Homo sapiens: one gene and its partner. The protein of the gene in region 1 interacts with the protein of each later gene in a pairwise test. Each region holds a gene or a part of one and is shown on either strand. Other genes may lie near its edges.

Region 1 (5,384 bases):
TCCTGCCTCAGCCTCCCAAGTGGCTGGGATTACAGGCGCACGCCACCATGTCTGGCTAATTTTTGTATTTTTAGTAGAGACAGGGTTTTGTCATGTTGGCCAGGTTGGTCTCAAACTCCTGAACTCAGGTGATCCACCCACCTAGGCCTCCCAAAGTGCTGAGATTACAGGCATGAGCCACTGTGTCCAGCCAATTCAACCTTTTTCCCTTGAAGCCCGCAACTCAAGAGTTCAGCCCCTTCCAAGGGCCTGGTTACTATGGCAGTTACTTCTTAGCAACCAGTTCAAGATGAATACCTCCCTCTAAGCCCCTCTCACTCTGGTTGCTAAGGCAAGTGGCTACTCCCTAGCAACGGGACCTCACGGAGCCTGAGGAGGCCTGACTCCTCCTCAGAGCACTTCCCCCTCGGCCAAATCTGAGAGGTCAGACTCCCTCCATGACCCCAGTGGCCAAGTGTGTGTAGACAGCTGGCCAAGTGTCACTAGGCCAAGTGGGGCCTAAGGAAGCCTAAGAGCTCATCACACCTTTGGTCTGAGTCACCTCCTTGCGAGGCGCACCTCTTCCTCTTCCTAACTTTAGTTGCTAACACTGTGCCAGGTCCGTCTTCTCAGGGGCCCGACTCCATCTCTCACCGTGGCAAAACCAAAGACCTTACCAGCTGCTCCTCTGAACCCCTTCAGCAGCTGGGCTTCCTAAGGGGGTGGCTCTCCAGTCCTGGGACCTGATAAGGCCTGTCTTAAGCCCCAACAATGTCTAAGCCCTCAGCTGCACATCCCCAGAGCAGTTTCAGGCTTCTGCTTCACATGGCAGAAAGCTCCAGAACCGTGAACAGCAAGCTCCAGAACAACAACACTCCCAGCAAGAACAGTAAAGTTCAGGCCCTCAGCAGGCCTTTCCTTCCTTTCCTTCCTTCCTTCCTTCTTTCTTTCCTTCTTTCTTTTCTTTCCTTTCTTTCCTTCTTCCTTTCTTCCTTTCTTTCTTTCGGCAGGGTCTCATTCTGTCACCCAGGCTGGAGGGCAGTGGCACAATCTTGGCTCACTGCAGCCTCCACCTCCCAGGCTTAAGTGATCCTCCTGCCTCAGCCTCCACAGAAGCTAGGACCACAGGTGCGCACCACCACACCCAGCTAATTTTTTTCATTTTTTGTAGAGTTGAGGTCTCACTGTGTTGCCCAGGCTGGTGTCAAACTCTTGAACACAAGCGAAACTCTCGCCTCAGCTTCCCAAAGTGCTGGGAAGATAGGAGTGAACCACCACACCTAGCCAGGCTTTCTTCTCAGAGACTAGATCCCTCCACCACCTTTGTTACTATAAGAACTAGCACCCCCTAAACATCCAGGCAACATTTATTGAGCCCAGGCCAGGCACTGTGGCTCACACTTGTAATCCCAGCACTTTGGGAGGCCAAGGTGGGTGGATCACTTGAGGTCAGGAGTTCGAGACCAGACTGGCCAACATGGTAAAACCCTGTCTCTACTAAAAATACAAAAATTAGGCCAGGTGCAGTGGCTCATGCCTGTAATCCCAGCACTTGGAGAGGCCAAGGTGAGCGGATCACATGAGGTCAGGAGTTCAAGATCAGCCTGGCCAACATGACGAAACTCCGTCTCTACTAAAAATACAAAAATTAGCTGGGCATGGTCGTGCATGCCTGTAATCCCAGCTACTTGGGAGGCTGAGGCTGGAGAATCGCTTGAACCCAGGAGGCAGAGGTTGCAGTGAGCCGAGATCGCACCATTGCACTCCAGCCTGGGCAACAAGAGCAAAATTCCATCTCAAAAAAAAAAAAAAAAAAAACAATAAAAGAAAATAAAACACATTTATTGAACCCCTGTAGTGTTAGTCATCATACTGGACACCAAACCAAGTAGCCCTAAGAAACACGCAAGATGGGCCCTCTTAGTCCCAATCATATAAATAGCAGCTGACACCAGGCGTCTATATAGGAAGTGCTCAATAAATGATTGCTACATAAATACAGGACTTGGACGGGTGCGGTGGCTCACACCTGTAATCCCAGCACTTTGGGAGGCCAAGGTGGGCAGATCATTTGAGGCCAGGAGTTCAAGACCAGCCTGGCCAACATGGTGAAACCCCGTCTGTACTAAATATACAAAAATTAGCCAGATGTGGTGGCGGGTGCCTGTAGTCCAATCTACTGGGGAGGCTGAGGCAGGAGAATCGCTTGAATCCAGGAGGCGGAGGTTGCCGTGAGCCAAGATACAGCCACTGCACTCCAGCCTGGGTGACAGTGAGACTATGTCTCAAAAATAAATAAATAAACAAATAAATGAATACAGGACTTGGCAAAGCCACTCCATGGCTCTTTTCATCACTTCCTCAAAGCCAGACATTCTCTAGCAACAAGGTCTGGTGAAACTGATGCAAAGCATCAGTCCCCTCTTTAGAAACCAGTCTCCACAAGTCCACTGGCTACGGGGAGGGGTCTTTCCTTAGCAGCACGGCTTGGTGCAGTCAGGTGGGGCACAGGGAAGCCTGGAACATGGCAAGCCCATGCCCAGGACCCTATTAGCTACATGGCCAGGTAACTCACCGTATTAGTTACATGTGGCAATGTCTAGTGGGATCCAGGGAGGCCCAGACACCTCCAACCCACCCTGGGGGCTGGCCTCCTCGGTGTTCCTTGTTGCAAAGGGGGCTGACACTCCAAGCCATGAGGACTGACTGGTAAGTCCCAGGCTGACCTGGTAGGGCCCGCGACAGATTCTCTCAGGGCCAGAGGCCTTTGCTGGGACACCACAGGATTTGTGAGCACTTTTGATTTTGCTGTGAGAACTCACCCAGAACTTGACCAGGAAGAAGGCATGGGGGGGGCCACGATCATATAGCTCTCGGAGGCCACCCTTTTTCTCAGGGAATTTGTCGTAGATCTGCCGGACGTCCACACTCTCGAGCGGCGGCGCTCCGGGGCTGGGGCAGTGCTGGCTGATGTGCACGAACAGGTGCCTCTGGTACTGAGGAGGGTTGGCCGTGGGTGAGAAGTCGGAGGTGAGCTGGATCTCCAGCCTGTGCTGCCTGAGCCCACCAAATGCCGTCACCATCCCCACAGCTCTGGCCAGCTGTTCCACACAGTCCACCCAGCACTGGGCCTGACTGCCACCCATCGTCCCCACTCCTGCTTCTGCACCCAGTCCCCTGCAGCCCTGCAGTCCTACAGTCCCCAACTCCCTGCCACAACTCCCCCAACTCCATCCTCACTGCCTCAGCCTCACCTCAGGCCTCCCACCCTCACCCCAGCCTCCAACCTCGCCTCTCCAGTTCATCCCTCATGTGGCTCCAGACCTGCCCCTGACCCTCCCCTGGTCATGGCCCTCCCATAGCTCCCCAGCAGCCCCAGGGCAAAGCTCACACCCCCTAGGCCTGGTCCTATATAGAACAGGTGCTCATAAATGGTCAATGGATGGAAGAGTGAATGAATGGGAATCCACAGAGGTCTTGTGGTTGATGTTTTGATTGATGTTTATATGGTGTGGCAGAGACTGCTACGTGTTCACAAATCCTGGTTCCTTTACACAGTGTGAAACTACATTTCCCAGGCCGCTTTGCAGTTAGGTGTGACCACATGACTAAGTTCTGGCCAATGGGATGTGACCAGGCCTGAGAGTCGACACATCCAAGTCAGATTCCTAAAACCTCCTGCACAATCTTGACTCTCTCCCTTCCTCCATCTGCTGGCCAGATGCAGAGACTCCATCAGCAGATTCTGAAGCCTTAGAAAATGGCAGAGCCACAAAATGGAAGGAGCCTGGATCCCCAAATCACTTGAGTCCAAGGCTCCTGCTGAACCTACATTGAAATGTTACATGCAACTTATCTGGCATTCAGTCCCTAAGAGTTAGGAGCTGTTTCTTCTAACAGTCGGCCCACTCCATCCTAGCCCAGGAGAAGCTCAAGCACAGAAATAAAATCTTTTCCAAGTTCCTAGTATGCATCACAAAGCCTAGTGAACAGTAGAAACTCAAACACGTTTGATAAATGAATGAATGATGTCCTGGGGAGCTTTTCTGACCTTCCCAACTTGTCACCCTATGACCTTCCAGTTCCTTTATGCTAGTAGTTCTCAAAGTACGGTCCCCAGACCAGCTGCATCAACGCACCTGGTAGCTTATTAGAAATGCAAATTCTCAAGCCCCACATCACATCTAGCAAATCAGAAAGCAATCTCTGTTTTAAGAAGCCCTTCAGATGATTCTGATACATGCTAAAGTTTTAAAACCATGACTTTATACATTCCCTTCCTGTCACCCTCTATATTTCAAAATCCCTCAGCGACTGTACCAAAATTTCACTCACAGAATCAACTGCATCTGGCGGTTCCACGAAGGCTGAGAACTCTACCAGCTGCAACCGGGCGGTGCCCAGGCCCCGAGCCTGCCAGGCTGGGGGCGATGGGGTAGGTGGGGGCAGGGGTGAGAGGGCTTGGGGGGGCTCGTACCCTAGAGAGAGAGAAGAAAGAACAATACAAATTGCTAACATTTATGGAATATATCAGGTACTGTTGTCTCTTGCCTGCCTCCACTTAGAAGCTGAAAAAGCTAAATACTCACTTTCCCAGCCTCCCTTGCAGTTAGAAGTGGCCATGTGACACAGTCCTAGCCAATGAGACGTTAGGGGAAATCTGCTGGGGGGCTTCTGGGAAGGAGTTTCTTCCTGAATGAAAAAGACAGAACTTTGGGAGGAGAAAGCTTTTGGCCCTGGCCAAGTCCTGCTTGGGAGATTGATATGGTTTGGATATTTGTCCCCTCCAAATCTCATGTTGAAATGTGATCCCCAGCTGGGCACGGTGGCTCACACCTGTAATCCCAGCACTTTGGGAGGCCAACGCAGGTGGATCACAAGGTCAGGAGATTGAGACCGTCCTGGCTAACATGGTGAAACCCTGTCTCTACTAAAAATACAAAATATTAGCTGGGCATGGTGGCACGTGCCTGTAATCCCAGCTACTTAGGAGGCTGAGGCAGGAGAATGGCTTGAACCCAGGAGGCGGGGGTTGCAGTGAGCCGAGATTGCGCCACTGCACTCCAGACTGGGGGACAGAGCGAGACTCTGTCTCAAAAAAAAAAAAAAAAGTGTGATCCCCAAGGTTGGAGGTGGGGCCTGATGGGAAGTGCTTGGGTCATGGGGGTGGATCCCTCATGAATGTCTTGGTGCCTTCCCCATAGTAACAAGTGAATTCTCACTCTTTGAGTTGATGTGAGCTGGCTGTTTAAAGGAGCCTGGCTTCGCTCTCTTGCTCCCTCTCACCATGTGACATAGTGGCTCCCCTTCCCCTTCCACCATGGTCCTAAGCTTCCTGAGGCCCTCACCAGAAGCATAGGCTGGCAACATGCTTCCTGTACAGCCTGCAGAACTGTGAACCAAAT
Region 2 (3,853 bases), on another chromosome or scaffold:
CCCAGGGCAGGTGCGGGAGGGGTGCGATTTTAGAGTGGTTAAGTAGGTTTCACTGAGATGCCATTTGAGCTGAGACCTGAAGGGTATAGAGGTGAGCCATGTGGATGCATGAGGGAAGCATGCTCCAGGTACCAAATGCAAAGGCCTACATTAGCTGGCATAATACTAGCTGCTAGTAACATATAAAACCCCATCAAAATAATTGATCCCTAGCTCACTATTTTTATTTATTTTTGAGACAGGGTCTCACTGTCATTCAGGCTGGAGTGCGGTGGTGCCATCACGGCTCATTTAGCCTCAACCTCCCGAGCTCAAGAGATCCTCCCACCTCAGCCTCTCAAGTAGCTGGGACCACAGGCATGCACCACCACACCCTGCTAATTTTTTAAGTTTTGTTAGAGACAGGGTCTCACTATGTTGGCTAAGGCTGGTCTTGAACTCGGGCTGAAGCAATCCTCCCCCCTCGACCTCCCAAAGTGTTGGGGTTACAGGCGAGAGCCATTGTGCCTGGCTCCAAACTCACCCTTTATAATAGCACCAATCCCACCCATGAGATGGAAGCCCAGCTGGGCAGTGGCTCCCTAGCAACGCGGTACCCTGTGGAGGGAGTGTGAACCTTCCATGGCTAGACGTCTCTGCTGTGACCCTGGGTGGTTATGTGCCCGGATGTTCAAGGAGCAGCAAGAAGACCAACTGGCTGGAGTCAAGAGAGAATTTTGGGTGATGGAACCAATATTCTTTGAAGGCAAAGACAGCAGGACTGGATGTGGGTGTGAAAAGGGAGTCAAAGCCATGTCCTGGCATTTTAGGGAGTGCCAAATGGCTTGGGCACTGGGAGGATGGAGATGCCATTTACTGACACAGGAAAGCAGTAGGAGGAGGTCTGGGTGGGGTGGGGGATTAGGAATTTGCTTCTGGACGTGTTGAGATGCTATTCAGACCTTCAAGTGGAATCCTGAGCCCCTTGGAGCCTCAGCTCCTCACCTGCAAAATGGGGGTAGCCAGGCTTACCTGGCATGTGGCTGAGGGGATTTCCTGAGAGGTGAGAGGTGGCAGGTGTGGGGTCAAGGGCAGTGAGGAGCAGGGGTGGGGCTGGGGTGGAGAAGGGCCTCTCAGAACAGCCCACTCCCTCCTCAGCCACGCAGGTCAGGTGGATGTGTCTGGCAGTCCAGTAAGGAGCTCATGGCGGGGGCCTGAGATCCGGGCCTACTCCTTGCCATGGGACCCATCCCAATGCCTCCGTGCTTCTGTTTCTCATCTGACAGTGGAGCTGGGCTGTGGGCCTCAGCACAACTGCGAGGAGCTAGCAGGAGGCTTGCAGGTGCCTGGGCAGGCAGCAGGCACTGTCACACACATCCCTGCTGAAGTGGAGATCCCACCTGCCCCCAGCCCTGGGGGGGGTCACAGACCCCCTGGACCACACAACTCTTATGGCAGAGGCTGTCACAAAGCATTAATACTTTTATTCCCATCAGTGATGCTGACGGGCCTGACCCTTTATAGAGAAAAACATTAGGAAAACAGAAGTGGGCAGGGACCCTGGGAGCCTCCATTCTCAATGCCCCACCCTTTACCTCTCTGCCAGTGTCAGCGCCTTCAAACCAGAAGGTATGGGGATGGCCTGGTGGGGTGGGCCACACATGGGGCTCCCCAGGCAAGGCCACCTGCTGACAGAGGTGAAGGCGAGGGCAGGGAAGCCAGGGCCCAGCAAAGCTCTTCTGGCGCAGGCAGCATACGGAGAAGGGCGACGGGTGGGTTGTTCTCCTTGGTTACTGGTCCTGGGCTTTCAGTGCCCTGCGGCAGCCTCACGGGGGCCCCTGCTGGCTCCGCCTCTCCTCCAGCGCCCGGCACACCCACATGGACACCACGGCGGCATTTCCATCATTGAACTGCACGATGAACGGGTGGCCCTGCGGGGAAGAGGAGGAGGCTGTGACAGGCAGTCCTCGGACTCCCGCGCTCATTGTACTTTCCAGGGCCTGCCCTCAGCCTGGATCTGATCTCTTTCCCCAGTAACCCTGTGAGGTAACGAGGGAGGCTATCAGCTCCATTTCACGGCCTAGATAATTGAGGCCCAGGGACGAGCAGTGACATACTGGTAGTCAGCACCAAGCGTGTGGAGTGCTGGCTGGCACATCTCAGACTCTGCCACCTCTTCCTGAGGCTCGCACTAGCCTGGAAGGTGCTTAAGGGCGAGGGCCTGTCTTCGCTGCACACTCTGCCTGGCCCTTCCTCTGCCCGGCATCACTCGCACGGCCAGTCAGCCGAGGCCTGGCACTGTGTTGCCAGCTTTCCGGTTCAGTTGGTGCCCAGAGACCAAAGAATCATCTCGTCAGAGGCTATGTCAATCCCTTTTAGCTTTCTCCTTTGTCTACAGCTCTCCTATAAAAAGAAGTCACCACCTGCAATTGGAGGGAAGGCAAACATGTCAGGGGAAGTGGGGAGGGGGAGGAATGTGCTGGGCTGTGCACAGGATCTCTGGGTTCCTGGTGAGAAGTTCCATTGGGGGCTGGACTCTGGAGGGGCCGGCCCTGTTGCCCTGTGGCCTGCCTCTGGTTCTAACCCACTTATCACACAGGCAGACCAGATTCTATTTAGCCAGTTCTCTTCTCTGCTGTCCTGAAGCACCAAGATTTACATCCACAATCTTAGGGCCTCCTGGGAATTCCCAGGGAAGGTCAGAAAAAAGCAGGGACAACCCCAGGGTTACCAGGCCACAGTCAGAGGTGAAAGGAAAAGTGAAAAGCCTTCTTTTTCTTCCTCTTCACCAAGTGGCTTCTTGCCCAGGAACTTACACCAAGTGGCTTCCTCTCCTACCCAAAACTGTGCAGCTTGCATGGTGAGACTCGGGGAGCCATAGCGAGGACAGAGAATGGGGGAGATGAGGGCGCCATGTGCCTGCCCCCAGCTCTTCTCCCTCCCTGTCCAGCGGCCGCTTCCTCGCTCCCCCCAGCTCTCTCCTCCCTCCAGCTTCCTCAGCCCCTCTTGGGCCTGTCCTCCACCTGCACAGGCTGGGCTTTCAGGGTTGCTTTCCCAGCACACCCCAGCCTTGACTGCAGCCCTAGAGAGGCTGCTTAAAGAGCCGCATGGCCTCGCCACGAGCTCATCACAAAGCCAGGAGGGATGTGGACCCTGGCTGTCCCAACCTCAGCGCCTGCAGGGGCTGTCAAGGACCAGGCCTGGGTAGAGCAGGGGACGGCATGGCCCCTCTGGACCACAGGTCAGAACTGTGGGGGACAGGAGAATGCTCAGGCCGCCTCATCCTAGGCTGATGCAGTGCCCGCCCCCAACCTTCTCATTCGAGGTTGGGAAACCTGCCCTGGGGACACCCTGCGTGGGTCTATCTCAGAGGCACACAGAGCACTGTCAGAGCTGCGAGGAGGAGGAGGAAACTCGGCTTCGAAGATGCCAAGGCACTCAACCCCGGGCAGGGACCCGCTGAGACTGGGGTGGAGCTAGGCCTGGAGCCCAGCTGGGTACTTCCCATAATCTGCTCATAGCACTCTGGGAGGCTCCTGACACACCTGCAGGACCCCTAAGGGCACAGGGGCCATGGAGGCCAGGCTGGGTGTGGCCCTGTGGATGGCAGAGGTTTGGTCTGGGGCCTGAGCAGGAGAGGCCCAGGAAGGACTGGATTTTGGCTTCCAAGTGTTCTCCTCCCCATATATATGCCCACCCCACGGCTGCTTTCCCAAATCGCTGCCTAGACAGAGGAAATCCTTCCCAAAGTCCAAGCGTGCACACTTCCTCTCAGGAGGCTCAGGAGGGGCGACCTCGTGCCCTTCTAAAGAACAAAGGGAGAAGCTGTGCTCACGAGTGACGGGCCCCTCCCCCCACGCCCGGGGTAACACAG

What was found.
Region 2: the proteins of TEAD2 (region 1) and MAP2K5 come close enough for resonance energy transfer, tested with the Homo sapiens proteins (one large-scale study listed by BioGRID).

The regions. Positions count from the first base shown.
Region 1 is NC_000019.10:49,344,389-49,349,772, forward strand, and holds part of TEAD2 (transcriptional enhancer factor TEF-4), read right to left. Parts: intron 4,672-5,384; coding exon of another isoform or gene 4,569-4,671; intron 4,458-4,568; coding exon 4,315-4,457; intron 2,976-4,314; coding exon 2,802-2,975; intron 1-2,801. UniProt on the Homo sapiens protein: Transcription factor which plays a key role in the Hippo signaling pathway, a pathway involved in organ size control and tumor suppression by restricting proliferation and promoting apoptosis.
Region 2 is NC_000015.10:67,804,703-67,808,555, reverse strand, and holds the end of MAP2K5 (dual specificity mitogen-activated protein kinase kinase 5), read right to left. Parts: intron 1,911-3,853; coding exon 1,806-1,910; 3' UTR 1,442-1,805; downstream 1-1,441. UniProt on the Homo sapiens protein: Acts as a scaffold for the formation of a ternary MAP3K2/MAP3K3-MAP3K5-MAPK7 signaling complex.